Linked DNA regions of Homo sapiens. The protein of the gene in region 7 purifies or fractionates together with the protein of the main gene of each other region. This does not show direct contact. Each region holds a gene or a part of one and is shown on either strand. Other genes may lie near its edges.

Region 1 (4,250 bases), on a different chromosome or scaffold from region 7:
CTTTTAAGGAACTTAATTGCTGCTTCCATTTGTTATCTACATACAACCAACAATAAATATGTCTAGTTTATGTTTCACTTATTTTTGATCCTTTGCTTTGTGTAAGCCTATATCAGAAAGCTAGTCCTAGAACAATGATCAATTTTTGTATCACTCCTTAGTACCACACTATGTTTGTCATGGTTGCTCAATCAATATGAATGATAACAGGCCTGTGTGACACATATGGTCCCACAGTCCTCTACATTTGCTAATGCAGTTGTTATGGAGATGCTTACTGGATCCCTCTATTTTGCTGTAATAGTTTCCCACACTGGTCAGGCAGGGTGGCTCACGCCTGTAATCCCAGCACTTTGGGAGACCAAGGTGTGATCACTTGAGGTCATAAGTTTGAGACCAGCCTAAACAACATAGTGAAACCTCATGTCTACTAAAAATACAAAATCTGCCAGGTGTGGTGGTGCATGCCTGTAATCCCAGCTACTTGGGAGGCTGAGGAAGAAGAATAGCTTGAACCCGGGAGGTGGAGGTTGCAGTGAGCCAAGATCGCACCACTGCACTCCAGCCTGGGCAACTAGAGTGAAACTCTGTCTCAAAAAAAAAAAAAAAAAAAAAAGAGAAGTTTCCTACACTGGGGAAATTCTTCTGCCTATAAGCATTTGTGTGCAATATGCCTTTAAGGTTGGTCTCACTTTATCTGCGGATAAGATTGGTTAAGAGAAAATTTCCTCATTTGTTTCACATGGCAACTGCAGAAAATAAAAATCATTTTATTGCATTGAGGGAAATATTTTATTGCATGAAGCGGGAGGCAAGTAGCCTGAAAACTCTGGCTACCACAAGCCCTGACCAGCTGCCAGAGGGTTGAAAGGAATCAATACCTTGGCAAAGAAAGACAATATAAATAGAACACAAAAACTCCTGTGCTGGTCATATTCTCATGTAATGTAAGTTCTTTGCAGCAGATGGAAAAGGGACATAGGTTCTCCTTCATACATTCTTGACAAACAGCAAACAAAATCCCAGCATTGTGTAGTTAAAAGCTTGCTGTGAGACACTTAGGCTTTGCTTAGTCTCACTTTCCTCATCTACAAAAACATACATAATTATAGTTGCCCTATTACACAAGATCATTCTGAAGATTAAAAGTAGAACATATGTGTTGATACTTAGAAAACAGGAAGCATTATAAAAATGAATTAACATACAAAATACCAAAATGGCAATATACCTCTAAAACAACTGTAAAATAAAACAACCTTCCAACACTAAAATATAGTTGTGACTAAATTACTTATTTCAGAAATACCAAGAAAGTCTCGCCAAAGGAGAATCACTCAGTATTGATTTATTGGTTCCTATAGTACATCCACATCTAAAACATCTTGGGGTCAAATGTGTTTTAGAATTCAGAAGTTTTTAAATTTTAGAAATACAGTACATGTACTGTATATTATGAAACATCTCACCAGAGTGTGAGGAAACACCCTGCAGTCAAATCCGTTAATGTTTCTGTAGCAAAATATAAAAAATTCATACCAAGCAGAATTTGAAAACAACCCCACAAAACTACGAATATCTGCTATATTCTTACACCAGTTTAGGTCAGGTTTTGCTAAAAAATTACCTTGCACTAAACATAAGAAAATGTTTCAGTTTTTGAAACTACCCGGATTTCAGAAGTACATATAAAAGACTATGAAGTTGTACTCAAAGATTATTTGTGGCCAGGTATGGTGGCTTGTGCCTGTAATCCTAGGTACTTGGGAGGCTGAGGTGGGAAGACAGCTCAGGGCCAGGAGTTTGAGACCAGCCTGGGCAACATAGCGAGACCCCATCTCAAAAAATAAATTTAAAAGTAAAAAAAAAAAAAATGCCAATTTCAAATACTTTTATGAACATTTTAAGGGTACAATTTGTTTCTTAATGTACTTTAAGCAAATGAAAATAAAGAACACCTAACATGAAGTTTGGTAATGTTCCCAAAACATATTCTCCTTCTGATGTCACATGTTAACAGGTAGTTTTAACCTTTTAAGTTAGTCCAAAGGGACAAAAACATAATATATGTTTCAAAAACCGTAACATTCCATAAAATAAACTTTAGAAAAATATTTATTGTCCTCAAAGTGGCTAAAAGCTCATGGTATTCTGAAAGCTGCATCAAAACGACAATATACACTGCTTTTAAACTAAGAAAACTTTCCCTCAACTAGTATCTTTTAAAAAGACATTTATAAAGGTGTTATAGGACATACTAATGACCAATGATTCACTAAGCAGTTGGTCAATGGAACTGAGAAATATGGAAAGGCTTTTTGTACCATTTGTATTAAAATCCAATCAGACCAACTCTGACAAGAAGCTGGAAAACTGGGAAAGAAAACAGTTTGGATGCACAGCATTAAAGCATAACCAGCAAACTGCTCCCAACCCCGTGTCCCAATCGAGAACTTTTTACCTTTAGTGACTTGGCCCCTTTTTTGTCACCTGCAAACATGGATTTCTCATCAAAGTGCATGGGAAAGGACCTGATAAAATGATAGTATTGGATTAAGTTACACATGAAAAATCCACGTACTCTGTATCAGAAACCTGATAAAATTTTCTATCCTTATGAATATTTAAAATTCATTATTTACTCCGATGTAAGTTTTGGTAATGTAGAAAAGTGACAAACAGTTCACACATAAACTATTTCATAAAAGACTAAAGCAAGACACAGATGGCTGTTAAATTTAGTAAGACTGTAATGTTTTAAATAAATGACACAGGTAATCTAAAAAATTAACTGAAAACAATCTATGTAAAAAATAGGCAATATTCCCTTAATATTCTTTAAAAATTTAATACATAATTTACTTTAAACACTTTTTAATCTTTCTCTTCCAGGCTATTTTAAAAACCAGTTAACTCAAGTTTTCTTGACCAAGCGTTTTGTTTAAAAGGTTATATTCTAGAAGATAAGGCTAATGTTTCCTTACATATCCATCCCAATGCAAACACATGTATATTATCATCTAAATTTAAATATAGTGACTAGAGGCCAGGCGCGATGGCCCATGCCTCTAATCCCAGCACTTTGGGAGGCAGAGGAGGGTGCATCACTTGAGGCCAGGAGCTTGAGACCAGCCTGTCCAACATGGTGAAACCCTATCTCTACTAAAAATACAAAAATTAGCTGGGTGTGATGGCACACACCTGTAATCTCAGTTACTTAGAAGGCTGAGGCACAAGAATTGCTTGAACCTGGGAGGCAGAGGCTGCAGTGAGCCAAGATTGTGCCATTGCACTCCAGCCTGGGCAACAGAGCAAGCCTCTGTCTCAAAAATAAGTAAGTAAATAAAGTGACTAGAAGAATACAAAATTGGTAGAAAGACCATTAAAGTAGCACTAAATTTTGATACTACATAAAATTTAGTGATATTTTAAAGCACTATTCTCAAGTGTGAAAATTTCTGCAAAAGAAAGCCTTATTAATGCTTTTTCATCAACATTTTCAGAAATATTTTTAAATTCTGTTGTTCTATTGATCACTTTCCTTTTCTGTTCTACATCTCCCCTCGGTTAACTTTTAGGAGTCAGTTTTTGTGTACTTTAAGTGCTACCTCATTTGAATACAGAGAGGAGAATTTCAAATCACGGATAGTCAATTCTTACTTTGTATCTTGAAAGATATTCAGTAGAAGAGTTTTTGTGTCAGCATCTTCTTCTGCATTTCCAGTGTAAAGATCGACAATTGAGCGCTCAAAATATGGAGCCACCTTTGACAAAGCTCGAAGCTCAATCAAGTATAAAAAGTAAAGATTCTTGAGCCTTCTTGGACCTTCTCCCTTGGTTTCCACAGGGTCAAAGCGGTGTTTGAATTCTTTAATATTAGGTCCCCAACTGGGCTTACCCCAGGTTTCTAAAGAGAAAGAGAAATACATTACATTGTTTTAGTAAACAGGATTTTTTTTCTGCTCTAAAGAATATGTATTCTCTCCAATAATTTTTACACTAATAGAAGGCAAAATCTCGACTTAAAAATATGATTACCTTCCAAAAGATAATTTGCGCATAGATGTAAATTGATGCTAGCATGAAGTCCCGATATAAGCTTATAGAAGACTCTTTTCTCCAGACACAAACCTATTCAGAAAAATATTGAAAAAGAAATTACACCTATTTAGATATCAGAAATATTGACTCAAGGAGGTTCAGTATGTAGGCTTATTTTTGATTGAAGAACATTAAAATAAATCAAGGAA
Region 2 (4,250 bases), on a different chromosome or scaffold from region 7:
AAACAGTATCCGCTGGCTTCCTTCATTGGTGTCACAATCATTCCCCAAGTGACCCCTATGGAGTCCAGTGACCAAGGAATCCATGGGTAGAATTCAGGGATCCATGAACTTGGATGGGGGAAAAATACATCTTTATTTAAACCTTTAACTCAAATTGAGTATTTCCTTTGATGATGAGTATAAGCAACAAACCACAATACTATTAGTAGTATTTGTGACTGTCACTAATAGAAATTATAGATACTTTTCTATCGCATTTCAGTTGTAGATAGCTCAAAGTGCCATTTACATTCATTGCAACTTCAAAATATCTGCTGTTAGACATTTACCTACCTCTAGATCCATTTAAGGGTTTAATTTAAAAAGCATATTATATCATAGATTTTTAAATAGCTTGGTAGCAGTATTTAATTGGTTTCCTGTGTAATCCTATATATTTTATTTTACTCATTTAAAAACATGATGCTGAGAAGGAATGAAGGCTTTACCAGACTGCCAAAGGGATGTATGGCACAAAGGTTTAAGGAATTATGCTTGAATTTCATTGTCTACATAGATGACATTTATTGAGCTGACTGTGCGCTTGGCATTATTTTAAGCATTCTCATAGTCCCACTGTGGAGCAGGCAGTACCCCATCCTACAGATTACAACACTGGGGCACAGAAAAGTGAAATAATTAGTCCAAGGTTTCAGGTAAATAGTAGAGCTATGAATGAACTCAGGCTACCTGTCCACAAAGCATGAACTTTTTTTTTTTTTTATACTTTAAGTTCTAGGGTACATGTGCACAACGTGCAGGTTTGTTACATATGTATACATGTGCCATGTTGGTCTGCTGCACCCATTAACTCGTCATTTACATTAGGTATATCTCCTAATGCTATCCCTCCCCCCTCCCCCTACCCCACAAGAGGCCCCGGTGTGTGATGTTCCCCTTCCTGTATCCAAGTGTTCTCATTGTTCAATTCCCACCTATAAGTGAGAACATGTGGTGTTTGGTTTTCTGTCCTTCCAATAGTTTGCTAAGAATGACGGTTTCCAGCTTCATCCATGTCCCTACAAAGGACATGAACTCATCCTTTTTTATGGCTGCATAGTATTCCATGGTGTATATGTGCCACGTTTTCTTAATCCAGTCTATCATTGACGGACATTTGGGTTGGTTCCAAGTCTTTGCTATTGTGAATAGAAAGCATGAACTCTTAACCAACAGTCATTAGCATGAAATCAATCTCAGTGTCTTTCATTCAGGAAACAGCAGTACCCATCCAGAGTAGAATGAGACCAGGGGCTGCTAGCTATTATCTGGCCTCATGGCAGGTAGCAGTAAGGGTGTACCATGCTACGGTGCCAATATGCCCCTAAGCAAAGTGGGAACACAGTGTTACTATCAGGAGTTTCTTTGTGCCATACTTCTCTGCTTTTGAAATTTACATACAACTGCTGGGGCTTTATCTCCTATGTGCAAGTGATATACAAGCCAGGGCTTTATCTTTTATGTATAGCCTTGTAAAAACCCTTTGGAATTCACCCCTTGGGCTCTGGCAATACTTGCACTAAGTAACTAAGAATCTGTGCTTAGGCCTGTAAACCTAGGGAAAATTTGCTCCACTGGCAGAGAAGCTAGAAGACTGTGGGGAGCTGGGGCAAACTGTATTTGGAATCAGGAGACCTGGCTGAGGCGACAGGTTCAGCACTAATTATTCATTAATTATATTATTCAATATTTATATTATTCTGTTGAACTAACTAGTTAACCTCTCTAACCTCAGTATTTACAGTTATAATGTAAAAGGGAAGATATCTATGAAGACTGGATGAAGGCATAAAAGTAAAAGAGCTTTCTTTCCAAATATCAGTAAATGTACGTTTTGGTTTAATATAAAGAAATTTGGCAGGGCTCAGTAGCTCATACCCATAATCCCAGTGCTTTGGGAAGTTGATGCGGTAGGATCACTTATGGCTAGAAGTTTGAGATCAGCCTGGGCAACACAGCAAGACCCCCATCTCTACAAAAAAATTTTTTTGTTTTTTTTTTTTTGAGACAGAGTCTCGCTCTGTTGCCAGGCTGGAGTGCAATGGCTCACTGCAACCTCCGCCTCCCGGGTTCAAGTGATTCTCCTGCCTCAGCCTCCTGAGTAGCTGGGATTACAGGCATGTGCCACCGTGCCTGGCTAATTTTGTATTTTTAGTAGAGATGGGGTTTCACCATGTTGGTCAGGCTGGTCTTGAACTCCCGACCTCAGGTATCCACCCGCCTCAGCCTCCCAAAGTGCTGGGATTATAGTAATGAGCCACCGTGCCCGGCCATGTTTTTTTAATTAGCCAGGTGTAGTGGTGCATGCCTATAGTCCTCACTGCTTAGGAGGCTGAGGTGGGAGGATTGCTTGAGCCCAGGTGTTCTGGGTTACAATGAGCTATGATTGTGCTGCTGCACTCCAGCCTGGGTGACAGAGCAAGAACCTGCCTTGAAGAAAAAAGAAAAAAAGAAAGAAAATATTTTTTAAAAGATAGATTAAAAAAATAAATAAAGAAGTTTTTACACTTTTGACACACTGACTGACCAGCACACAAGAGTTACATAATAAATGATTTAAAGGATGGTGGTTTAAAAAAAAAAAAAAGGGAAAAAGGCTGCTCTTTCAGAAGTAGAAACAGACCACATAGCTTCTTGTGGGAATTGTCATAAAAGGTGCGAGGCAGCAAGCAGAACATTCACATGGGTACTCTGGGGGTTCCTGCCCACGCTTAGGTCTCTGATGCACTCAAGCCTCATGATTCATCCATGGCTGTGTACCTTGACACCAGGAACTGGCCTGGGAATATTTGTATACTGTTATTTTCCCCTTTATTGCTCAACTAGGGAGGGGTGGAAAAGGAGGGTGTGGAATCCCAGTTACAGTTCAGAAGAAGAAAGACAACTTTGATGGCATTTATCCCTCTGGGACATCCTTATACTAAAAATTGAAGTGGGCAACCTGGGGAGAGAAATAACTTGATTGCCAAAGTACCATCTCTAAATATTGAATAATCAAACAGTAGGCATCAGATTAAAGCAAAAATCAAACATAAAGCCTCTGTTCCTTCAACTTCCTCTGAAGAGCCTTTCCTTATGGGGAGGTGGGAACATGCTTTTTTTCTTTTTTTTTTGAGGGAGTCTTTCTCTGTTGTCCAGGCTGGAGTCCAGTGGCTCAATCTTGGCTCACTGCAACCTCTACCTCTGGGGTTCAAGCAATTCTCCTGACTCAGCCTCCCAAGTAGCTGGGATTACAGGGATGCACCACCACACCTGGCTAATTTTTGTATTTTTATTAGAGACGGGGTTTCACCATGTTGGCCAGGCTGGTCTTGAACCCCTGACCTCTAGTGATCTGCCCGCCTCAGCCTCCCAAAGTGCTGGGATTACAGACGTGAGCCACTGTGTCCGGCCAAACATGCTCCTTTTTAAAACAGACTCAAAGGGTCACCAAATTCTGACAGAAGGCACTCGAACATATGATAAAATACAGGGTACCCAGTGATATTTTAATTTGAGATAAACAATGAATGATATTTTAGTATAATTATGTCCCAAATTCCACGCTTAATGCTAAAAGTATGGTATAAGTATTTCATGCTTATACTAAAAAAAAAAAAAAAAATCCATGTGAAATTCAAAGTTAACTGGGTAGCCTACATTTTTCTTTGCTAAATCCAGCCACCCACCACCTACCCCAACATTCTCACGTCAGCCCATTTGGGGCTCCACATATCCAATAAAGTTACCATTTTATAAAGTCACTGCCCATTAAAGTGCATCACAGTCACGTAAAGAAAAGGTGCATCAAATTGTAAAGTAGGCCGAGGGTGGTGGCTCATGTGTATAATCCTACCACTTTGGGAGGCTGAGGCAGGAGCATCACTTGAGGCTGGGAGTTTGAGATTAGCCTGGGCAACAAAGTGAGACCCTGTCTCTGCAAGAAATAAAAATACTAGCTGGGCATGGTAGCATGCATCTGTAGTCCCAGCTACTCAGGAGGCTGAGGAGGGAGGACTGCTTGTGCCTAGGTGTTTGAGATTGCAGTGAGCTTTGATGTACCACTGTACTCTGGCTTGGGCGGCAGAGCAAGACCTTGTGTCAAAATAAAAAACAAAGAAAAACAAAAAACAAACAAACAAAAACCTGTAAATAAACTATCAGGCATTCTGTCAATAAGTTTTATTTACTTTTTCTTTTTTTTTTAGATTTGCAGCTATAACTTTAAAACC
Region 3 (4,250 bases), about 30 Mb from region 7:
TCACCTCACAGAACATGACAAAGGTGTGTACTCACAGGTTGGTATTTATTAGAATCACTAATTTTTTTTTTTTACTGTTTCAGTAAGCACATTCATAAGTGAAACCAGTATCCTTTTTTAAAATGCTATTAAGAATACAATGGGGGCTGGTGTGGTGGCTCATGCCTGTAATCCCAACACTTTGGGAGGCCAAGGCAAAGGGATCGCTCAAGCCTAAAAGTTTGAGGCCAGCCTGGGAAATATGAGACCTTCTCTCTACCAAAAAAAAAAAAAATTAAAAATTGGCTGAGCATGGCATCGTGCACCTGTAGTCCCAGCTACTCGGGGCGGGGGGCCGAGGTGGGAAGATAGCTTGAGCCCAGCTTGAGCCCAGGAGGCAGAGGTTGCAATGAGCTGAGATTATGACACTGTACTCCAGCCTGGGTGACACAGTGGGACCCTGTCCCACAAAAAAGAAAAAAAAAAGAAAAAATATGAATATTAGTACTATTTGGTGTTTGTTCGCCTTTGTTCTCAGTGAGGCTTCAGCAGTATCACCTAACACTGTAGGTGTAAATATCAACACATTAGAAAAGGCAGAAAGTCTTTCAAAGTACCACTATTAAAAGCAGAGGCAGAAAGAGAGATGAGATACAGAGCACATATGTATTCACAAAATTTAAGTAAGTAAACATCCACTAAGTGCAAGATACTGTGTACTGGCTTAGTAAATATGACTAAGACATGTATTATATGTCTTGTTATTATATATCATTATACTAGTATTATAATAAAAATATTTTTGACCTTGTGGGCCTCCTCAGAGGTCTCAAGGACTTCCAGTGATCTGTTGACCACACTTAGGTAAGTGGTAACCTTGATTATAGTCCTAAGGTTTCAACAGCTAGGCCTTCCAGAGCTACAGACATATTTTAGCATATGGATTTTGGCATATACTTTCCTATTAAACTATTCTTTAAGAAAAGTACTTCTAAAGTAATAATGAGGTATCTAAGAACATGATATTAAAATATAAAGAAAAAACCCAAATTAGAGTAAAATCTTAAGGCAGTGTACTCTTGCTACAGTTGGGTATCTCAATATTCTTCACTTGTTTTCAGCTATTTAATCTACTACTGTTTTTCCAAATCAGCTTGAGAACATTTCTTTCAACTACTCTGAATCTTTATGCCCCTGCTCAAAATCGTCTGAAGAGTCTTAAGTGCAGGCTTCTAGGATCAAAAGTTCTTGTGCAATACTTTCTCCCATCCTAAAGGTAATTCTACTGGCAAGAAACCTTTATATCTGGCAGCTTAAAATTAAGAAGAGAAAAACAGGCTGTTTGCTCTTCCAATTTCCCAACTCTTAAAAATTCAGGCTCCTCTCTCATTATATAGCCATGCAGAAACAGAATGTTAGGAAGCAGAATGGTCTACCTACTCTCTATAAAACCCTCATAGTCATTAGTACAAAGGAATGAATTTCCTTTCTATCCACATGACCAGCTTGTTACAGATTAACATCCCCACACTACTCTGGCCAGATCTTCCCTTTCTGATTAATAGCTGTAAATGTGCTTATATGTCATCACACTTGGAGTTATATATGAAAAATACACAATCCAGTGTCCTAATAACACAATCTGATGACAGAAGCCTGTTTATTAAAGGAGCCATGCCCTTTTCTCCTTTTCTAAACATTTCTCAACAAAATCTGTGCTGCTTTTGTGCTTCCTCTCTCTCCACGAGTACAGTACCAAAAAGAGCTATAATAATGCAAATCTTCTGACTTACGTTGACCCCACTGTCCACTACTGGGATTCAGATAGTTAGGATAAAGGCCTTGTGGTTTTTCCAGTTTGTTCAGTACTGTTCGAATATTCATTACCTATAATAGAAAATAAAATGTTACCGTGAAAATCTAAAAAACAATTTTCATGCCATTCTTCTTCTTCTTGAACATACAAGTTGACTTAAATGATGCAGAGTTAGAACAAAGATAACTGCTGTTAGCTTATTATTACAAACATAATGGCAGTAAGTGAATATAGTCACACTGATTAGTTATCTACCATTAGCCAGATGCCATACTAGGAACAAGGGGCCAGTGGATAAACAAAGTCACCACACTCTTAGAATTGTGCATCCTAGTGGGACGGGACAGACAATAAATCAATAAGTCTAGTCATGTGTCCCTTAATGACAGGGATACATGCTGGGAAACACAGGCAATTTAATTCTTGTACAAACATCATAGAGCACACTGTCACAAATGTAGTTGGCACAGCCTACTGTTTCTAGGTTACAAACCTGTGTAGCATATGTTACTGTACTGAAGTATTTGTGTATCTAAACACAGAAAAATACACTATAAAAGATGAAAAATGATACCTTTCTATAGGGTTATACATTTTATAACCCTATACATAAATACAGGGCACTTTGTATAGGGCATTTATCATGAATGAAACTCGCAGGACTGGAAGTTGCAGTGGATGAGTTAGTAAGTGAGTAATAAGTGAATGTGAAGGCCTGGGACGTTACTGTATAGTACTGTAAACTTTATAAACATGGTACACTTAGCCATTATTAATACATTTATAAAAGTATTTTTCTTTCAATAATAAATTAACGTTAGTTTACTGTAATTTTACTTTATAAACTTTTTAATTAAAAAAATTTTGACTCTTTTGTAATAACCATTAGCTTAAAACACACTTTGTATAGTTGTACCAAAATATTTTCTTTCTTTATATTCTTATAAGTTTTTTCTATTTAAAATTTCTTTTTAAAGTTGTTTAACTTTTTAAACTTTTTGTTAAAAACTAAGACACATATACACATTAGCTTAGGACTCCACAGGACCATCAATATCACTGTCTTCCACTTCTACATCTTATCGCACTGGAAGGTCTTTCAGGGGCAGTAGCACGCATGGAGCTGTCAACTCCTGTGATGATAATGCCTTGAAGAGGAATACCTCTTGAAGGACCTTGCTTCTAGAGCTAACTTAAAAAAAAAGTGGTACATTCTAAAATAACAATAAAAACCATAGTAGTACATAAATCAGTAATGCAGTCATTTAATTATCAAATATTATGTACTGTACATAATTATATGTGCTATACTTTTATGTGACTGGGAGTAGAGTATGTTTATGCCATCACCACCACAAACATGTAAGTAACGCATTGCACTACGACATTATGACAACTATGATGTCACAAGGCCGTAGGAATTTTGTCAACTCCATTATAAACTTACAGGACCACTGTCACATATGTGGTCCACTGTTGAATAAACACTGTTAAGTAACACCTAACTGTATAGTATGTCAGGAGATGATAAATACTGTGGAAAAAAATAAAAGGGTGCTATGGATTGAACTGCATACCCCTAATTTCATATGCTGAAACCCTACTTCCCAGTGTGATTGTATTTGGAGATTTATTTGGAGATGGTAATTAGGTTATGACGGTAGAGCCTTAAATGGGATTAGTGCCCTCATGAGAGACACAAGAGCTCTCTCTCTCTCTCTGTGACTCCTTCTCTCCCTCAGAGCACAAAGAAGACATCATGTGAACACACACTGGGACAGTTCTCGTCATCTACAAGCCCAGGGAAGAGGCTCAGAATAAAACCTACCTCATGGGCAGTTTGATCTTGGATTTCCCAGCCTCCAGAACTGTAAGAAATAAATTTCGGTTGTTTCTGGCTGCATTTTTGTTATGGTAACCCGAGCTGATTGAGAGTTAACGGGACAGGGTGATGTGGAGAGGCTATCCCATGTTAGTCAGAGTGGCCTGGCAAGGCGGAGGTGTTTGAGCAGAATATTAAAGAAGTGAGGGAGTAGGCCACGTGGAAATGTGGAGGAAGAGCACTCGGAACAGAGAGAGGAGCAAGTACAAAGGCCCTGAGGAGACAGCAGGTTTGCAATGCTACTGAGGCCAGAGGTGAGGAGACAAAGGGGAGAATGTCAGCAGGTAGAGGAGAGGAGAGCCAGGGCCCAGGTCACCCAGGCCCCACAGGCCACAATAAGGGCATATTTTACTCTGAGTGTCATGAGAAGGCTGAGGGGGTGAGGAAGGGGTGGTCAGGTGGCTACTGTATGGTGTACATACAGTACACCAGGTGACCTGATGGATCCCAGATCAGGACAGCAGTAGAGGCAGTGAGACACCCAAAGGATTTCTTAGTGGACTGGGCCTGGGGTTTACCAAGAAGAAGAACCAGGAGGAGACCACTGGGTACAGTGAGATGTCATTTACCAAG
Region 4 (4,250 bases), on a different chromosome or scaffold from region 7:
TTTTTTTTTTTTTTTTTTTTTGAGATAGAGTCAGTCTTGCTCTGTTGCCCAGGCTGGAGTGCAGTGGCACAATCTTAGCTCGGTGCAACCTCTGCCTCCTGGGTTCAAGCAATTCTCCTGCCTCAGAGCCCCAAGTAGCTGGGATTACAGGCCCCCGCCACCCTGCCCAACTAATTTTTTTATTTTTAGTAGAGATGGGGTTTCACCATATTGGTCAGGCTGGTCTCGAACTCCTGACCTCAAGTGATCTGCCTGCCTCGGCCTCCCAAAGTGCTGGGATTACAGGCGTGAGCCGCCGCACCCAGCCTCTGAGTCTTCTTTCTTACAAGTGTATGCTAGAGTTAACGAAACTCTTACATCAGTGGCTCTGATGGTTAAAGCTGTTAATGCAAACCAGCAGGCAGAGTGGAAGTGTACACAAGTTACTTTCAGTACTTTGTTGTAAGGATGGAGAGACCATTCTATTTAAAGACTTAGAAGGCTGTTCTGTAGAGTCAGCAGGTGGTAATCAAGGATTTGGTTTTAAAGATTAGCCACCTGCTGTTTTCTTCACCTTAGCCAAAAACACATAAATATATAATGCGTCAAAGTTTTAGCCATTGAATAGATGTAAATAAGATCCTGGGTAAAATAAAATTCCTATAGATAAAACAGACTTCCAAGAACTGAAATTGAGAAGTGAGATAAAGCAGAAAAAATACTAAGTGGAGATCATTAGAAGCCAGCTGTTAACCAAATGTTCAGTCATCAAGGTTGAGCATCCAGTTACCACTTTCTGCTATACTGGGACCAATTTCTTCTTCCATTTCTGTGGCTTTTCTACATGTGAGGTTTCTTGATGGCTTATTTTACGTTAGAATAGAGTATTAAAAAATATTTAAGTCACAGTGGCTCGTGCCTATAATCCTAGTACTTTCAGAGACAGAGGGAGGAGATCACCTCAGGCCAGGGGTTCAAGACCAGTCCGGGCAATACAGCAATGCCCCATCTCTACAAAAAATTTTTAAAAAAATTGGCCAGGCAAGATGGTGCTTGCCTATGGTTTTAGCTACTTGGGAGGCTGAGGCAGAAGAATCGCTTGAACCCAGAAGTTGGAGGCTGCAGTGAGCCATGATCACACCACTGCACTCCAGCCTGGGCACCACAGCAAGATCCTGTCTCAAAAATTGGGGAGGCTGAGCTGGAGCACTGCTTCAGGTCAGAAGTTCGTGACCAGCCTGGGCAACATAGCAAGACTCAATCTCTCAAAAAACAACACAATTAAATTAATTAAAACAAAATTATATATGTGTAAAAATAAAAGGAAGAAAAGAACAGTTTCTGAGCTGACTCACATTTTCACAAAAACGCTCCCGATCATCTCGGCAAGCAAAATATAAATGCCGGTCTAAGTGAAAGTCATCCGATGACAGCTCAGCCACCCGGAGAATGGCTTTCTTGCAGAGTTCAGAAACTTGAATCTTGGGTTCTCTTTCTTCTGCTTCTTTCACCAGGCCTTTCTCCAAGCATGATACCACCTCACCTTGTGAATGTGCATCCTAAAATAGCGAGGATATTAATATTTTAAAACTTTTATCACATGGGTTTCAAATAAACAACATTTGGCTACACACACACACACACACACACACACACACACACAAAGTAATAAAACCCCATCATAGAGTTGACTTATTAACGTTCTACCAAGAAATCAAGTAAGAACCAACCACATTGTGGAAGTTAAAGAAAATGCTCTCAATAATCTTCAGTTAGAATATAATACTTGCATGCTACAAATGGAAACAGAGATCCTGGAAAGTTTAAGTATTATAGTTTAGTTAGCACTAGAAATAAGAACCTGAATTTTTAAAAATTTAAAATGTCAAAAATTCATAAGAAACACAACAGGGCCAGGCATGGTGGCTCATGTCTGTAATTTCAGCACTTTGGAAGGCCGAGGCAGGTGGATCACCTGAGGTCAGGAGTTCGAGACCAGCCTGGCCAACATGGTGAAGGCCCATCTGTACTAAAAATACTAAAAATACAAAAAATTAGCCAGGCATGGTGGTGTGCGCCTGTAATCCCAGCTACTCAGGAGGCTGAGGCAGGAGAATCACTTGAACCCAGTAGGCGGAGGTTGCAGTGAGCCGAGATCGTGCCACTGCACTCCAGCCTGGGCGACAAGACAGAAACTCTGTAAAAAAAACACACACACACACACACACACAAAAAACCACATCGGCTCAAAGTTCTGGTCATAGTTCATGTCAAGACTGAAATTACACTGCTGAAATCTCTGTTCATTTGTCTCTAAAAACCAGGCATTTCCCAAATAACAGTGCTTGCTTTTTTTTTTTTTTTTTTTTTGAGACGGAGTCTCGCTCTTTCGCCCAGGCTGGACTGCAGTGGCGCTATCTCGGCTCACTGCACGCTCCCACTCCCGGGTTCACTCTATTCTCCTGCCTCAGTCTCCTGAGTAGCTGGGACCACAGGCGCCCGCCACCACGCCCGGCTAATTTTTTGTGTTTTTAATAGAGACGGGGTTTCACCGTGTTAGCCAGGATGGTCTCGATCTCCTGACCTCGTGATCCGCCCGCCTCGGCCTCCCAAAGTGCTGGGATTACTGGCGTGAGCCACTGCGCCCGGCCAACAGTGCTTTCAGTCAAGTTAAAAACCAACAAACCACATAATCCACTAAGAAGTTAGAGACTTTCTTGCTCCTTTCCCTACTCTGTGGTGTCCACAAACATCCCAATATGTAGAATCTGTTGTTTAATACTCACGTTGATGTTCTGGATTTATCTTAATGGGATTTAACAAGATTACCACTGTTTACACAAAACGCTTCTGAGAGTTTTCTTAAAAACCATCCAATTATCTTTAATTGTACACTTCATCATCCCCATAGCAACCACAAACATTCATTCATGCAAAATATGAGATAGTTCCCCTAAATATTTTCTATTCAAGAGTCCTAATCTATACTTACAAGATATGTTTCAACAATTTAAGGTATAACCACTAATATAGCAAACCAAAGCATCTTAAAATATAGTGCTATTAGCCCGGCACGATGGCTCATGCCTGTAATCCTAGCACTTTGGGAGGCCAAGGTGGGCGGATCACGAGGTCAAGAGTTCAAGACCAGTCTGGCCAACACAGTGAAACCCTGTCTCTACTAAAAATACAAAATATCAGCTGGATGTGGTGGTGTGCACCTGTAATCCCAGCTATTCGGGAAGCTGAGGAAGGAGAATCGCTTGAACCCAGGAGGTAGAGGTTGCAGGGAGCCGAGATTGCACCACTGCACTCCAGACTGGGAGGTGCAGTGCAAGGCTCTGTCTCAAAAAAAAAAAAAAGTATATATATATATATATATTATATTTTATATATATATTTTATATATAGTGCTATCATTTATACACACGCAATTAAAATCTTGTTATAATAAAATACCTATCTATGAAATAATCTGCATATAATAAAAAGATTCTGGCCAGGCGTGGTGGCTCATGCCTGTAATCCCAGCACTTTGGGAGGCCGAGGCGGGTGGATCATCTGAGGTCAGGAGTTCGAGACCAGCCTGGCCAACATGGTGAAACCCTGTCTCTACTAAAAATTCAAAAATTAGGTGGGTGTGGTGACACGTACCTATAACCCCAGCTACTCAGGAAGCTGAGGCGAGAGAATTGCTTGAATCTGGGAGGCGGAGGTTGCAGTGAGCTGAGTTAGTGCCACTGCACTCCAGCATAGACAACAAGAGTGAACTCCGTCTCAGGCAAAAAAAAAAAAAAAAAAAAAGATTCCTAAAACCAAGTAGCGTAACATCTACTTCAGACAAAATTTCAAATCAACCAAAGAATGTATTTTTTTCTATTTTAATTAAAGGATTTGTCTATAGCACCTTAATTTCCAAGTGTTTCCATGAAAGCTTTCGTGTTATCTCCTAACACACATATGAAGAAAGGACACAGCTCTGATATCTACTGCGGACATGAATGAACAGAGGCTCAGAGGAGTTAACTAACTCATTTGAGTTGTAGAACATGAAGTGTCTAGCTAACAGTCCATTATTTATTTATGGGGTTAATCTGGGTGAGTGGGTGGAGTCTATAAAACTCCTAAAACTTGTTTGTTGTTGTTGTTTAACTTTCATTTTTATTTATTTAAGAGACAGGGTCTTGCTCTGTTGCCCAGGCTGGAGTGCAGTGGAGGGATCACAGCTCACTGCAGTCCCAAGCTCCTGGGCTCAAGTGATTCTCCTGACT
Region 5 (4,250 bases), on a different chromosome or scaffold from region 7:
AGCACTTGCCTCAACAGACTTCAAATTCCTATTGACAGGTGACTCCTATTTTTCTCACATTTCTGCCTTTTTTTTAAACAGGAATATCTAGGTATTTTATGCCTGTCCTACCACCATATGTTGGCTGTGTTGAGGGCAGGTAATTTGACTCTGGTTTCACAGATCTACAGATAAAGAGGAAGCATACTTGAAGAATTATAGTTAAAGATTGTATGGATACCTAAGGGGCCTCACCCACACCTGGATCAAATTTGGATGGCATCTAGATTTTGAGGTGATGACCGCCTATACAGTAAAAAAAATTATTTTTCATATTTTAATAAAAGTGATGTTTGACATCAATACAATTTAACTTGTTTTATAGCATCCAAACCTCTAAATAAAATATAAAATAATTTAAAACATTTTCTGTCTGTTAAAAGATTGAGCTACTAATGCAGAAGGGCAAGCATCATAGATTTCTAATATTAATATTATTTATTAATAAATCTCACTAATATAAAACTTGATAAACTTCTCTAAACCAAATTAATCAATTATCAACTGCCAAATTTTAATCTGTTTATAATATTTATTTGACAGCATCATAGCTATTATCAAGAGAACACATAAGCAATGTCAAAGCTGTCCTAAATATCTTGATTTGCAGATTATTTTTTCTGTTTGTAACAAAGATTCCAATTAAAGGAGGCATTTTAAATGAGATGTGAACTGGAAAATGAAATGTCTGACTCTCCTAAAATGATTATAATTTTTTTAACTTCATGCACTCCCAAAGAAAAGCAAATAATATCATTTCAATGTTCTATAATGCCTATCCTTCAGAATGACAGCACATCTTAATTTTCTATTCACTATCATATTGTGACATTTTATGTATGAAAAATAGTTAAAGCAGTATTTTTTAAAATGTCATACGGCTATAGAGAGCAATTTATTTCATGCCCATGTCCCTCCGGGCTATGAGCCTATTTAGTAAAGCTTATCAGTGAAGGACAATGACTGACATGTCTTCTGCATATGCACTCATGGGCCAATAAAAACAAAGAACACAAATATACCATTCAGAAATACACAGCACTGTTTAAAAATAGCAATGCCCATTTCTTCTCACAGAGAAGAGGGTCCTAGTCTACAGAGACAGCACAGAGCAGTGAAGGGGTATTATCTTGTACTGAGAGTCAGAGTATGTGGGCTCTCAGCTTAGCTTAAGCTACCTGGTAAGTGACTTATCCACCTTAGAATTCAGTTAACTAACTGTAAAATTCAGTGTCTGTATCCAACTTGATCAGTCAATGCATTCCTAAACTTCAGACATGCAGGCACCCCTCAGGCGAGTTCTTACTACACTCATGCAAAACCTGTACAGTTTTTTTGAATCCACCAAATAATCACTTAAATAAGTTTATTTTTCCTTAAAATAAACTTTAAACAGGAAACTTTTACACCACTACTTTATAAATGAAAAATCTGATTTACATAGCATTAATGATTGGTAATAGATTTAATTTTAAAATTAAATACAATAATACAACAAAACAATTATCAAATTCTAGCTATCAAGTTGTTGGCTGCCTAACGTCTATTCTCTTTGGAAAAACAGAGAAGCAACTCTCTAGGAGAGAGATTCTAGCATCAGACTGAGAATTTCTCCATTACTTGTCAGGAAAGCATTGAAAGGAAATAAGTTTTTCATTATATGATTCACTGTCATTTCAGGCAACATCTACATGCCACATAAAATCAACTCTAGTATCAACCAAAATCATCTTTCATACCAGCAGCAAATTTCTTGTACCCTGGAAATGCTGCATCAAATAGTACACCCGTTATTTCTGATTCTAAATTTTATCATGAATCCCCATATGACCCACCTAACCTACTTTCTTAAAACCATTAATACTGTCATGAGAGACACTAAAATAATTTTGAGGGCAATGATGCACTATGGAAAAAGTTACATTAGGTTTCTAAGCTTAGTTTCATCAGGCTAGATCTTGACACTGGCAAGTTAATTAACCTCTCTAAGCCTCAGATTGCTCATTCAGATTAAAGTGCTAGTGTCACAGTTAAATGACATAATGCATGTAATAAGCTTAGCATTGAACCCGAACATGGTAGGTACTCAATAAATGTTATGGATTAAAAATAATTTAATTTTCTCAAATAAGTTTTCAAAATTCTACTAAAATTCACTCCAAAGAACACTGGCTAAAAAGAAAATATAGTTTATCATTTTTCTTTTATAATAAAGCTATATGATATATAACTTTCACTTCAAAATAAAGCTATAAAACCCATAAACCATCTACTGGCAAAAGTAGCAAAACCACTTTGTCCTTAATGATAAAAGAAGAACCATTGGCTGTCAAAATGAAAAACAACAACTCTTAGTTGCTATCATGTAAAGCATTTTCAGGTTTTTTCCACCCCAAGAACGGCTCAAAAGGGTAGAAAAGACAGAGTGAGAATATCTTAATCAAAAAGTTTCAGCCAAGTAGGGCACATAGTGAAAGGAGCCACTTTTAGGCCAGCACTAATAACACTCTTACCTACTAGATGTAGTAAAGGCTGGGCAAAATAAAAAGAAGCCCAATGTTAATTCAACAACAGTAGTTCTGGTCACCTAATAAATGGTAGTAGTAATATTCTCCAGGACTCATACTCGTCACTTCAGATGCACTATTTCTAATCCATACAAGTTTGCAAGTTAGACATTGCTAACCCAAATTAAAACACGAAGAGGCTGAAGTTCAGAGAGGTTATTTGCCTGCTCAAGGTCACCCTGCTGGTAAATGCCTGAGTTGCACTGAAACCACATCTGATGCCCCAACCAGCTCTCCAGTCACCATTTCCTGCTGCTTTTCTTTTAGGACATAAAGATGTGAACAAAACTCTTCCTCAGTACTTTGAAAAGTCACCAGGTGATATGTGTCCCCTTTTCTTTCCCTGCCCTCTTCTGGTTTCTCTCCAATCCTTTGCTTTTTGATTCACACCATATTTAGTCAGTATTCATTTCCCCAACTCCAATTCACTTATTCCTTCAGCCACAGTAATGTGGTATTGTACCCCAGCCCTTTTGGAAACTGTCCTTCCTAAGAAAAGAAAGAATAAAAAGAAATCAAGGCAAGGCTTCCAATCTACTTGGAACTTAAACTAAAGGCTCCCAGATAACAAGTAATTCTCTTACACAGCAACCAATTATTTACCTGGACACCAGTACTCTCATTAGAGTTGGCATGTTACATATTAGAGGGATGACTAAGGTGGGCACAACGTGTGAAATCGATTATAGATTATGTGCAAATCATACATATTCAAAAGAATGCTTCACTGAATTAGAGCTTCAAAAGGTATTTGGAAGCTTTTATCTTTTATTCAGGGAAGGAATTTACACACAAATAAAAATTACTGAACTTAAGAGTATTTTTGTTCCATATTCTAAATGGTACAGGATCAAGCAAAAATGATAGTCTCTTCATTTAACTCTAAGTTGTACTTCAGTGAAGATGTCCATTTAATAGACAATGTCTAGTTCATGTTTTAAGTTCTAACGCTGCACTTGAAAATTAGTACACCTACCACACATTGCCCACACTTGTGGTCTAAATTGCTGAGGTCTATGAACCACTCTGTTGTATATGTTTCCTCAATCATCCAAAATGCAAGCTACACCCTTCTAAGCACTGCACATCAGCTAACACTATTGATTCTCAAGATAACCTTTTGTAAGCACTATTATCCTGATTATTACATATGAATAGATTGAGTCACAGAAAGGTTAAATAACTTGCCCATGACCACACAGCTAGCAAAATAAGATAGCAGAAAATCAAATCCAAGTGCTCTGACGCCTCAGCCTGTATCTATTATACCTCACTGCGCACAATACCACCATATATATGCACATTAATAGGCCAAGAAAAAGTACTACATAGGTACTACCAGGCACCAGACGCTGGAGATGAAGGAATAAAAAAAGCCTGGTTCTGTGCTGAAGATGTTTCTCTCTTTTTTTTTTTTTTTTTGAGACAGAGTCTCGCTCTGTTGCCCAGGCTGGAGTGCAGGGGGGTGACTGGGCTCACTGCAACCTCTGTCTCCCAGGTTCAAGCAATTCTCATGCCTCAGCCTCCTGAGTAGCTGGGATTATAAGCATGTGCCACCACACCTGGCTAATTTTTGTATTTTTAGTAGAGATGAGGTTTAGCCATGTTGGCCAGGCTGGTCTCAAACTCCTGATCTCAAGTGAT
Region 6 (4,960 bases), about 120 Mb from region 7:
TCCATCCTGGGAGACACAGTGAGACTCCATCTCAAAATAATAATAGTAGTGATAACAACCGTAAACATAGTAACAAGTACTTTTTTTTTTTTAGATGAAATCTCACTCCGTCACCCAGGCTGAAGTGCAGTGGCAGGATCTCCGCTCACTGCAACATCTGCCTCCCGGGTTCAAGCAATTCTCCTGACTCAGCATCCTGAGTAGCTGGGATTACAAGCGTGTGCCCACATTCAGCTAAATTTTTTTTGTATTTTTAGTAGAGATGGGGTTTCACCATGTTGGCCAGGCTGGTCTCGAACCCGACCTCAGGTGATGCGCCCACCTCCCCCTGCCAAGATATTGGGATTACAGGTGTGAGCCACCACACCTGGCAATAGCAAGTACTTCTATCTAGTATCTACTATATGAGCCAGGTACTATTCAAAGTACATTGCATTCATTTATTTATTTAATCCTTACAACCACCTGGTGAAGTACATGCTATAATATTTTACAGATAAGGAAAACTGAGTAACAGAATGGTTAAGTAACTTGCCCAAAGGCACCCAATAGGGTCAAGATTCAAACCCAAGTATTCTGGCCCCATGGTCTGGTCTAGAGGTTGGCAAACTGTGACCAAAGGACCAAATCCAGCCTGCTACTTGTTTTTGTAAATGAAGTTTTACTGGAACACAGGCACATTCATTCACATATGGTACATGGCTGCTTTCACACTACAACAGCAGAATTGAGGAGTTGTGAAACAGACTATATGTCCTACAAAGTCAAAAATATTTACTCTCTGGCCCTTTATAGACAAGGTTTGCTGACTCCCACATCAGACTAAACCTTCTAAGGCAATAAGGTGACACACTTAAAACATTCTGGGCCAGGTGCAATGGTTCACACCTGTAATCCCAGCACTTTGGGAGGCCGAGGCGAGTGGATCACCTGAGGTCAGGAGTTCGAGACCAGCCTGGCCAACATGGCGAAACTCCATCTCTACTTAAAATACAAAACTTAGCCGGGCATGATGGCGCCTGCCTGTAATCCCAGCTACTAGGGGGACTGAGGCAGGAGGATCACTTGAACCTGGGAGGCGGAGGTTGCAGTGAGCCAAGATGGTGCACTGCACTCCAGCCTGGGCAACAGAACAAGACTCCGTCTCAAAAAAAAAAAAAATTCTGAACAGAGCCTGTTCAAATAACTCAATAAATGTAAGTTATCTTTATTGTCATCACTGCTATTGGTTGTAGCAGAGGTGGAAGCAACTGACCTGATCCATGGAAGCCCCAGTTCAGCATCCCCACTCACCATGCCAGTAGTTGCAGATGGAGAATTCCTGGCCCCAGGGGCTATAGCAGATCCGATAGAGGTTAGACCGCATGGAGGTGGGGAACAGCCACTTCAAGTAGTCCGTGTCTGGCAAGCGAATGGCAATGCTAAGTGACCATAAACCTCTGTTCCCCCAAAACTCAGGGCATTCTATGGAGTCTAGTGCCCACTCACCTCCATACTGTCCCATCTGTGGAGAGGAGAGGGAGATGAAAGAATCCACGTTGTGATCATCCATGACAGAAAGCAGAGCCCGGCACACAAGGCCCCCTGTAAGCAGAACACCACATTGGGCAGGCACTTAAGGACAGCAAAGCCAGCAGCACCCCCCACCCCCACCACACACACACACACACACACACACACACACACAGAGACACACACAGACACACACTGTACACAAAGGAGACTGAGGCTTACAGAAGGCAGGCACACCCTGTGCCAAAAGGTCACACATCATATAAGTGACTGAGCCCGAATTAGATGCTGGGCCTCCTGCCTCTAGTTCTAGGATGTTTTTACCTGCCCCATTAGCCCTTATGTCCAAGAACCATGGGTAACAGGAAGCAAAAGGGCAGCAGTGTAGGGAGCCTCCCTCCCATTCAAGACAGAGATGAGACCCAGGTGCTGAGGGAAGTCAGAAAGGAAGGGCTCAGGTACCAGGGTTGTGCCTGGAGCAATGTGGTTCAGAAAAAGGGACGCTAGGAAGTGTCCCTCAGATAAGGATCAAGCCTCAGATAGGGCTTAGGAGTTAGGGGCAGGGGAGTCGCCTACCCTGCGAGTAGCAGATGAGATGCACCCCTTGAGGGGCCTTTGCCATGATGGGGACCACAGCCTCTCGGAACCCTTGCACCTGTTCCCACAGGGGTCGCAAGCTCTCTCTCCCATCGAAGAGATCGAGCACTGTCACCACAGTCCCGGGGTGTGTCTGTGGGAAGGGGGCAATGCAGCCACCGGGGATAGGCTAAGAAGCTCCCACACGCCACCCCCTGGCCCGCGTCCACAGGTCTATTGTACCCTGCTAGAACCAGGGATCCCGTCCCCCAACTCTCCCCCACGCCAGCACCAGCTCCCTGAGGAACTGGGCAGGCCCAGAGGGGTGGCTTTCAGTTCCCCGCTCTCCCTCCCCTGCCACAGTAGACGCCTCTAACGCCCTGCACCCAGGTGTCCCCTGCCAGACCTCATTGATGTATTCCAGCAGGTGGCGGAAGCTGTACGAGCTGTCGAAGAGCCCATGCACCACGATGACCGGCTTGTAGGACGCGCGGTGGGGCGCGGGGGCTGCAAGCAGCAGCAGCGGCAGGAAAGGCAACAGAAGCAGGACCCACGCCGCGGGGAGCCGCTGCCCGCAGAGCCCCAGCATGCTCCCGCCTGAGAAAGGGGTGATAAGGGCATGTGAGGGAGATGGCAACACCCTCCTCCCTCGGAACAGACGCCCGGCAATCAAGCCACCTCCTCTCGCTCCCACACCAGGTCCGTGTCACAAAATAGCCTACTTTTAACTTACTCCAGCCCTCTCCCTACAAACACACCCCCCCACCACGTTGACGCACCAACGCGCACCCGAAGTCCCGCCTCCAACTCAGCGTTCGGGGGACTTGTTCTCTAGGTCCAGGATCTTCCTAATGCATCGCCTCAGCCATGAACAACGCGGAGTTCTTTAATACCCGTGAGCAGCAGCCCAGGCCCCTTGAAGAGTGCAGACTCCCACCTGGCCTGGGTCCGTAGGCCTCGCTCCACCCGCTGTTTACTTATCCCAAGTCTGGAACCCACGGTGGCGGGGGGAAGGGTGAGGAAAGAGAGCGCAGGGGAATGACGGATGGGAGGGGGAAGGGCGGGCTGCTTGGGGTCGCGCAAATCCGTCACGTCCGGGGCTTTCTCTGGCAACCGCGCGAGCGTTCCCCGCAACACAGACCCAGGACAGGAGGGGCAATGGAATATTCCATTGCGCCCTAGGTGCTGGGGAGGAAACAGGCGGAGCGATCCATTTAGGCCAGTGGGGAGAGGAAAAAGCAGCAAACATATTCTGGGAATGGAAAGAAGGCCTCTCCAGGCTTCGTTGCCCCCAGCGACCCAAAAGTCCGATTTCCCCGCCTTGATTCTCCCCACTTCCCAATACAGGCGTCTGGCTCCGCAGCAGAACACGAAGTTTGCATTCCCCAAGGGGCGGCCAGGGGGCGGACCAGGGAAAGGTAGTCCTCTGCATTTTGCCGTGTGCTGGGTGAGTGGCAGGGTGGCCTGGAGGGCTGATGCCAGCCCGGGCGTGCCCCTCAACACCCACCCCACCCCACCCTCCAGTCCGCCCCAGGTCAGCGACTTACAACTCTTCATTCTGAAGTGCGTGTAGTGCCCTTGTCTCCAGAGACGCAGAGAGTCCTCGAGGCCCCTTGAGCTAAGTGCAGCCTGGCCCAGTTTCTCCTGCCCTACTCTACTCCCCTCCCTATAAGCGACCCACCCTCAAGGGGCGGAGGGCGCGTAGGGATGCGCTGACTCATGCCCGCGTAATTTCGACCAGTCTTTCAACCTGAACGACCCCCAGAATCTGGCTGTCTGAGTTATCTGTGGGTGGCTCCCTACCGAAACCCCCAGGCGCCCCACCTCTCCGCCTGTGACCCCTAACCGACACCCTAGTGCCTCAGGGCTTTTACTTGCTAGGGCTTTTACTTAGCATTTAAAGACGTTTCTCTAGAGATAAGGATTTCTCAGCATGTCTGAGCCCCTCTCTCTGTTTACAAGGTCATTGCTTGGTCTAAATTTGTCTCAATCAAAACATTTTTGCGCTCAGAATGGTGTAGAGTGACGATGAGGTGGCGGTAAGGGGTTGAGCGCTCACGCGAACGCCTAAGTGACCAGAACGACTGGTGTGAAGCCGTGATCTGACTCTGTGGAGCCTGGGACTGGTTTCAGCGAGAGCCTCTGTACTGCTCTGTAGTCTCTGCTAGGACATGGACGAAAAGGGACGCAGCCGGGAGAGCGACTGCCCCAGGTGGGGGCTGGGGGGACGTAAGGGAAGAATAATAATTATCTGGCTGTGTTTTTGTTTAAAAAAAAAAAAAAACTGGTGTAAATCTCCATAGACTTCCTATCCTCGCTCCCTTCACCCACCCACGCGCTCCCAAGATGCAATAAGCAAATAAAAAGACTAATAACGCTGTACTGCAGGTCGACTCAGGAGCTGGAGATGCGTCTTGGTGGGAGGTGGTGGGTGGGAGTAGGGGGGTTTAGGGAATGGATCTGAACATTGACCAGCCCAGAGACTCTAAGCAGCCTCAAAAGCAAAGGGAAAGTGGGGGAACAAGCACACATTACCAACAGAGCTGCCAGAAATGAGCAGTTAAGTCATACCCCCTACCCCCTCCAAAAGAGCTTCAGCTCCTTAGTCCTGGACGAAGAAGGTATGTATGCACACCGCCCAAACTCTCTCTCCCTTTTCCCTCCAAGGCCCAGCTCCCCCTGATTTACAGACCTGGGCCTCCCTCTTTACTGCTAGGTTGGTAGGTTCACCAAACCCTGGGAACTTTTCAGACCATCGCAGTTCTGAACTCTGCACAATTCTCTCTCACACACAAGTATTTATCTCTTCTAAAGAGGAGGAAACTGGGGCCAAGGATTTGGGAGAAGACCCTGGCACCTTGCAGGGAGCTAA
Region 7 (4,250 bases):
GGTCTCAGTTCCTCACTATGTGAACCTCTCTTCATCCATAGCAGCTGATCTCTCTCAGAGCAAATGACTGAGCAGACAGTAACAAAGTTGGAAGCCATAATATCTTTTATGGAGAGTGTTCATCTTATGTGTCACCAGGATTTAGTTTGCCCTTTATCTCAGACTGTGTATTAGACACACACACACCACACACCACACCACACCACACACACACACACACACACACACACACACACACACACACACACACACCATAGAACAAGATAAAGCCAAAAGGAGAAAATGATTAACATAAACCTTTCTTCTTCAAAGGAGTCTAATTTAGGATAAGACCTCTCCTTGCACAAAGAACGGAGTTTATGTTGTCTTCTAGAAATAAAAATCAGTCACATCAAACTCTTTACATTAAAATTCTATAAACTCTTTAAATGGCTTGTTGTTGAAAAGACAAAGGAAATCCTAGTTTCACAACCCCACTCAGGTAAATGGGATTTGAACTCTAATGAGAGCTGGGAGGCTAAGGCAGCCTCCACCAACTATCCACCTTCCTTCAGCAAGTCCCTGATGGTGGTAGGGCCACCTTGACCTTGTGCAACGGGATCCAGGGCTCTCTGGGCAAAGACCAGTTTCCCTGGGCCTTGGGACCTACCAGTGATGCAGGTGGGGTTCGGGAACCCTGTGGAATGTGAGGCAGCAGACTGCATTTGGGGAGCTTTCATCTGCTGCTTCCTTCTTTCTTTCTTTCTTTTTTTTGAGATGAAGTTTCGCTCTTGTCGCCTAGGCTGGAGTGCAGTGGCGCGATCTTGGCTCACTGCAACCTCCACCTCCCAGGTTCAAGCGATTCTCCTGCCTCAGCCTCCCGAGTAGCTGGAATTACAGGCTCCCACCAACACACCTGGCTAATTGTTGTATTTTTAGTAGAGACAGGGTTTCTCCGTGTTGGCCAGGCTGGTCTCGAACTCCTGACGTCAGGTGATCCACCTGCCTCGGCCTCCCAAAATGCTGGGATTATAGGCATGAGCCACCGCACCGGGCCTATCTGCTGCTTATTTCTACAGGGCAGAATGCCTTCTTCCATCTCAGGACAACAAAACAGAACAATAAACAGATCACTGAATGTGTATTCAAGGCTTGTTGTCACAGCAGTAGATTAAGGAGAATAGGAAAAAACAAACAACGTTGTTTGTCTTTCTCTTTGGATAAAATGACAATGAAAAAATAAATGATGGATTTCTGAAAGTAATTATACTTACGATGATACCACAGGCAGCCCTTGTAATTGCTTTGCCACATTCTATTTCTTGCTGCTATTTGGGGACCACTCGGTTTGTTAGGATAAAATCATAATTGTATTTTCAATTTGCTGCTCTATCTATTCCACTGTCAGGATTTGATACACTAGAGTGCTTTTATCAAATGGAAGTTGGGCCAGAGAGAATTCATCACAAGGATGGCTCTTTCATACTCACGCATGTTTCCATCAATGGAGTCCAGGTGCACACACACGGATTCATTTGTACCCACCCCAACAACATGCTCAAGACAAGGCTGATGGAAAATGTTGCCAGTTTCAGTTTCCAGCAACATGCTCAAGACAAGGCTGATGGAGAATGTTGCCAATTTCAGTTTCCATAGGGAGAAATGGAGCCATTAAGCCTTTGGAACATGGTGCTTTTATGTCTGAACATGAAGCTCAAGATTTTGGCATCTGCAGCTCCTGGTTCTAACTTTCCTTTGCAAGCCCAGGGAACTAACTGCCCTTTGTCATCAGAAGAGATCATTTCACTCCTTTATTTCCTGAGGCCTTTTCAAGGTGAGTAGCCCTGGACACAGACCTCTCATGGAGAAGAGCTTGCTTACAAATGAAGTTACCTGGGTCTTTGTAGATACTGAGCACGCCCTTGAAGTAATGAGGTAAAAATCTTTCCAGTAACAGCAGCACATCTTCCAACTCTTCAAGAATCCCCACGAGCAGGAAGTTTTCATTCACGTTCAGCTTTGCTCTCTCAAGGGCCCATTCACCAGGCTCCCTTTATGGATATAAAAATTTATTTAAAATCAGACATTCATATTTGAAATGCAGCAAGATGCTGAGAGTTTACCCCCTCTACCTCCCACCTTCACTTGCATAAGTCCAAATCCTGTTTCCCTCAAGGACCAGCCCAGATGTAGCCCCATCCAGGGCCTTCCCAGTCCTTCCAACTGGTGTCCTGCCCTGCTCACCATTCCTTCTCTGTCACTTTCATCCATGCTTCATGCCAAGCCCAGGGCCTTGAATTCAGAGGCCCTGCCTAAGTATTGTGGACGAATGAATGCAGGCACAAGCAGTTAGGTTCTAACAAATACTAATCAAGGGGTGAGTAGAATGGTTTTTTAATAGGAGGACCAAACTGAACCAATTAAATGAATTTAGGAGTTTTGAAATATGAAACTTACCGACATAGTATTTATGTAGAACTCAAAAGAGCTGTCAGGTCATGCCTATTAATCATCTTATTCTTTGGAAGAGTTAAAGAGGAATCTTTGGATTTTTGTTTTGTTTTATTTTGTTTGTCTAGATTGCAGAAGGAAAACAGCCTAATTTGTAAAAATCAGAGAGCTGATTTGTAGGCCAGCTCTCTGAACTGACACTAAGGCGAGTGAGAAAAGCCCGGGAGTGGGGCTCCAGGCCTGGCTGTCATTTATCATTTGGGGGAATTGGGCAAGCCAGGGTTCTCTTTTGAAAAATGGTAAAAATCACCCTTACCTAGTTCAAAGCATTGTTGTAAAGACTGTGCAAGGTGATATGATGAAAGAGTTATAAAAATCATTGTGTGTGTATCAAGGTGTGGTGTCATGAGTCACCTCTCCAAGATTAGAAAATTCAAAAATCTGAAAAATACTACACGATTTAAAAAATACTTTAGGGAGTTCAAATCATGTTTCCTGTTATAAAGATATTCACTGTGATCAGCAAGTGAGTCATCCAGCCCCAAATCTTCCCAATACCTGAAGCACTAAATGTTAACCAGGAGGTATTTGTTATTGAGGCAAGGGTCGGGGGCAGGGGAGAGGCCACCTGGACTCAGGGGGCTTATGGTGAAGTCAAAAACCAACACTCCTAGTTCTATAATTTGGACTATAAGCAAACTCTTTTGTTATGGCAAATGAAACAAGACAGGAATAACAACAATACGCCTAAAAACGAAGCAGAAATCATAGCATAAGCAAAAAGGTACAATGAATGCGTTGCCGGTGTAGAAGTAGCAGTTCTCCTTTGGCCTTTTCAGAAACACAAGGACCCTCTAGTTAATGTTTCCTTTGGGGAATAATGTCACTTCTGATAGCAGGGGTTGATTTCCTACCAAGCAAATATAATGCTTCATTGTTGCTGCCATTTCTTCTCCAGGCTATGACATTTGTCTAGCACAGTAGATTTCAACTATAGCTACGCCAGAAGCATCTGGGGAGGCTGCTACACACGAGACTATGATTGGGTGGGGGTTCTTAACAAGTATACAGGGGTGCTGATGCAGGACCTGGGCAGATCACACCCTGGGGGTCCTGACTATCTGAGTAAGTCACTCTCTAAAGAAGGTTGTGCCTTCAAGTAAGGTTGACAGGTGATCATTATAAAACACTTTCTTCTCTGCCTACTAAGTATATCCACTATGGGATTGAGGTGTGGGCTTCCAGTGTCTCAGACCCAGTGACACATGCTACGAGGGCAGGTTGTTGGTTAAGTCAGTCACTGTACAGGAGCAGGCTGGGTGTTCGCTCCTGGTCTTCACGATCACATTTTATGTGACATTTTGTCATTTTATCCAAAGAGAAAGACAAACAACATGGGATGAGTAGTGACAAGTATGTTTTAGGTATAAACAAGGGTTTGGTTCCAGTTACAAAGCTTTATATGGTGGTCTCCTGAGGCCTCTACAGACCCTGATTTTTAAATTTCATTATTTATAGGACATTTGGAGTCTCAAATATTATCTTGAAAGATTAATAGTAAACAGGAACTGAATTCCAGAAGGTTGAGAGACTAGGGATACAAAAGATTCCCACCGAGTACCAGGCTGGTGGGGTTCTTGCCCTTGTTGTGCGTACGTGCATGCCATGACCCTGCTTTAGCCCTTACCTGCATCTGGGATGCTGTCCACAAAAGTACGGAATGATGTAAAATAACCTGGGGTTGGAGCACTCGGGATAGTTTTCAAGAATACACTCATTGATATCCTAGAAGAGAAAATACAGCAGTCAGATGTCTTGTA

The links.
Region 1: the proteins of UST (region 7) and ERO1B purify together in Homo sapiens (affinity purification with mass spectrometry; one large-scale study listed by BioGRID and IntAct). This does not show direct contact.
Region 2: the proteins of UST (region 7) and PON2 purify together in Homo sapiens (affinity purification with mass spectrometry; 2 studies listed by BioGRID and IntAct, with this or other methods). This does not show direct contact.
Region 3: the proteins of UST (region 7) and MAN1A1 purify together in Homo sapiens (affinity purification with mass spectrometry; 2 studies listed by BioGRID and IntAct, with this or other methods). This does not show direct contact.
Region 4: the proteins of UST (region 7) and GLG1 purify together in Homo sapiens (affinity purification with mass spectrometry; 2 studies listed by BioGRID and IntAct, with this or other methods). This does not show direct contact.
Region 5: the proteins of UST (region 7) and GOLIM4 purify together in Homo sapiens (affinity purification with mass spectrometry; 2 studies listed by BioGRID and IntAct, with this or other methods). This does not show direct contact.
Region 6: the proteins of UST (region 7) and PPT2 purify together in Homo sapiens (affinity purification with mass spectrometry; 2 studies listed by BioGRID and IntAct, with this or other methods). This does not show direct contact.

Annotation. Positions count from the first base shown.
Region 1 is NC_000001.11:236,222,609-236,226,858, forward strand, and holds part of ERO1B (ERO1-like protein beta precursor), read right to left. Parts: intron 4,132-4,250; coding exon 4,039-4,131; intron 3,908-4,038; coding exon 3,661-3,907; intron 2,532-3,660; coding exon 2,462-2,531; intron 1-2,461.
Region 2 is NC_000007.14:95,428,288-95,432,537, forward strand, and holds part of PON2 (serum paraoxonase/arylesterase 2), read right to left. Parts: intron 1-4,250. UniProt on the Homo sapiens protein: Capable of hydrolyzing lactones and a number of aromatic carboxylic acid esters. Has antioxidant activity. Is not associated with high density lipoprotein.
Region 3 is NC_000006.12:119,199,482-119,203,731, forward strand, and holds part of MAN1A1 (mannosyl-oligosaccharide 1,2-alpha-mannosidase IA), read right to left. Parts: intron 1,867-4,250; coding exon 1,773-1,866; intron 1-1,772. UniProt on the Homo sapiens protein: Involved in the maturation of Asn-linked oligosaccharides. Progressively trim alpha-1,2-linked mannose residues from Man(9)GlcNAc(2) to produce Man(5)GlcNAc(2).
Region 4 is NC_000016.10:74,495,107-74,499,356, forward strand, and holds part of GLG1 (Golgi apparatus protein 1 isoform 3 precursor), read right to left. Parts: intron 1,539-4,250; coding exon 1,335-1,538; intron 1-1,334. UniProt on the Homo sapiens protein: Binds fibroblast growth factor and E-selectin (cell-adhesion lectin on endothelial cells mediating the binding of neutrophils).
Region 5 is NC_000003.12:168,085,759-168,090,008, forward strand, and holds part of GOLIM4 (Golgi integral membrane protein 4), read right to left. Parts: intron 1-4,250. UniProt on the Homo sapiens protein: Plays a role in endosome to Golgi protein trafficking; mediates protein transport along the late endosome-bypass pathway from the early endosome to the Golgi.
Region 6 is NC_000006.12:32,152,312-32,157,271, reverse strand, and holds the start of PPT2 (lysosomal thioesterase PPT2 isoform a precursor), read right to left. Parts: upstream 3,132-4,960; 5' UTR 2,868-3,131; intron 2,686-2,867; coding exon of another isoform or gene 2,678-2,685; coding exon 2,495-2,677; intron 2,243-2,494; coding exon 2,089-2,242; intron 1,585-2,088; coding exon 1,489-1,584; intron 1,402-1,488; coding exon 1,294-1,401; intron 1-1,293. UniProt on the Homo sapiens protein: Catalyzes the cleavage of thioester bonds from S-palmitoyl-CoA or S-palmitoyl-N-acetylcysteamine (unbranched structures) but does not have activity against palmitoylcysteine or palmitoylated proteins, branched structures or bulky head groups.
Region 7 is NC_000006.12:149,019,104-149,023,353, reverse strand, and holds part of UST (uronyl 2-sulfotransferase), read right to left. Parts: intron 4,216-4,250; coding exon 4,118-4,215; intron 2,031-4,117; coding exon 1,873-2,030; intron 1-1,872. UniProt on the Homo sapiens protein: Sulfotransferase that catalyzes the transfer of sulfate to the position 2 of uronyl residues in glycosaminoglycan chains. Has mainly activity toward iduronyl residues in dermatan sulfate, and weaker activity toward glucuronyl residues of chondroitin sulfate.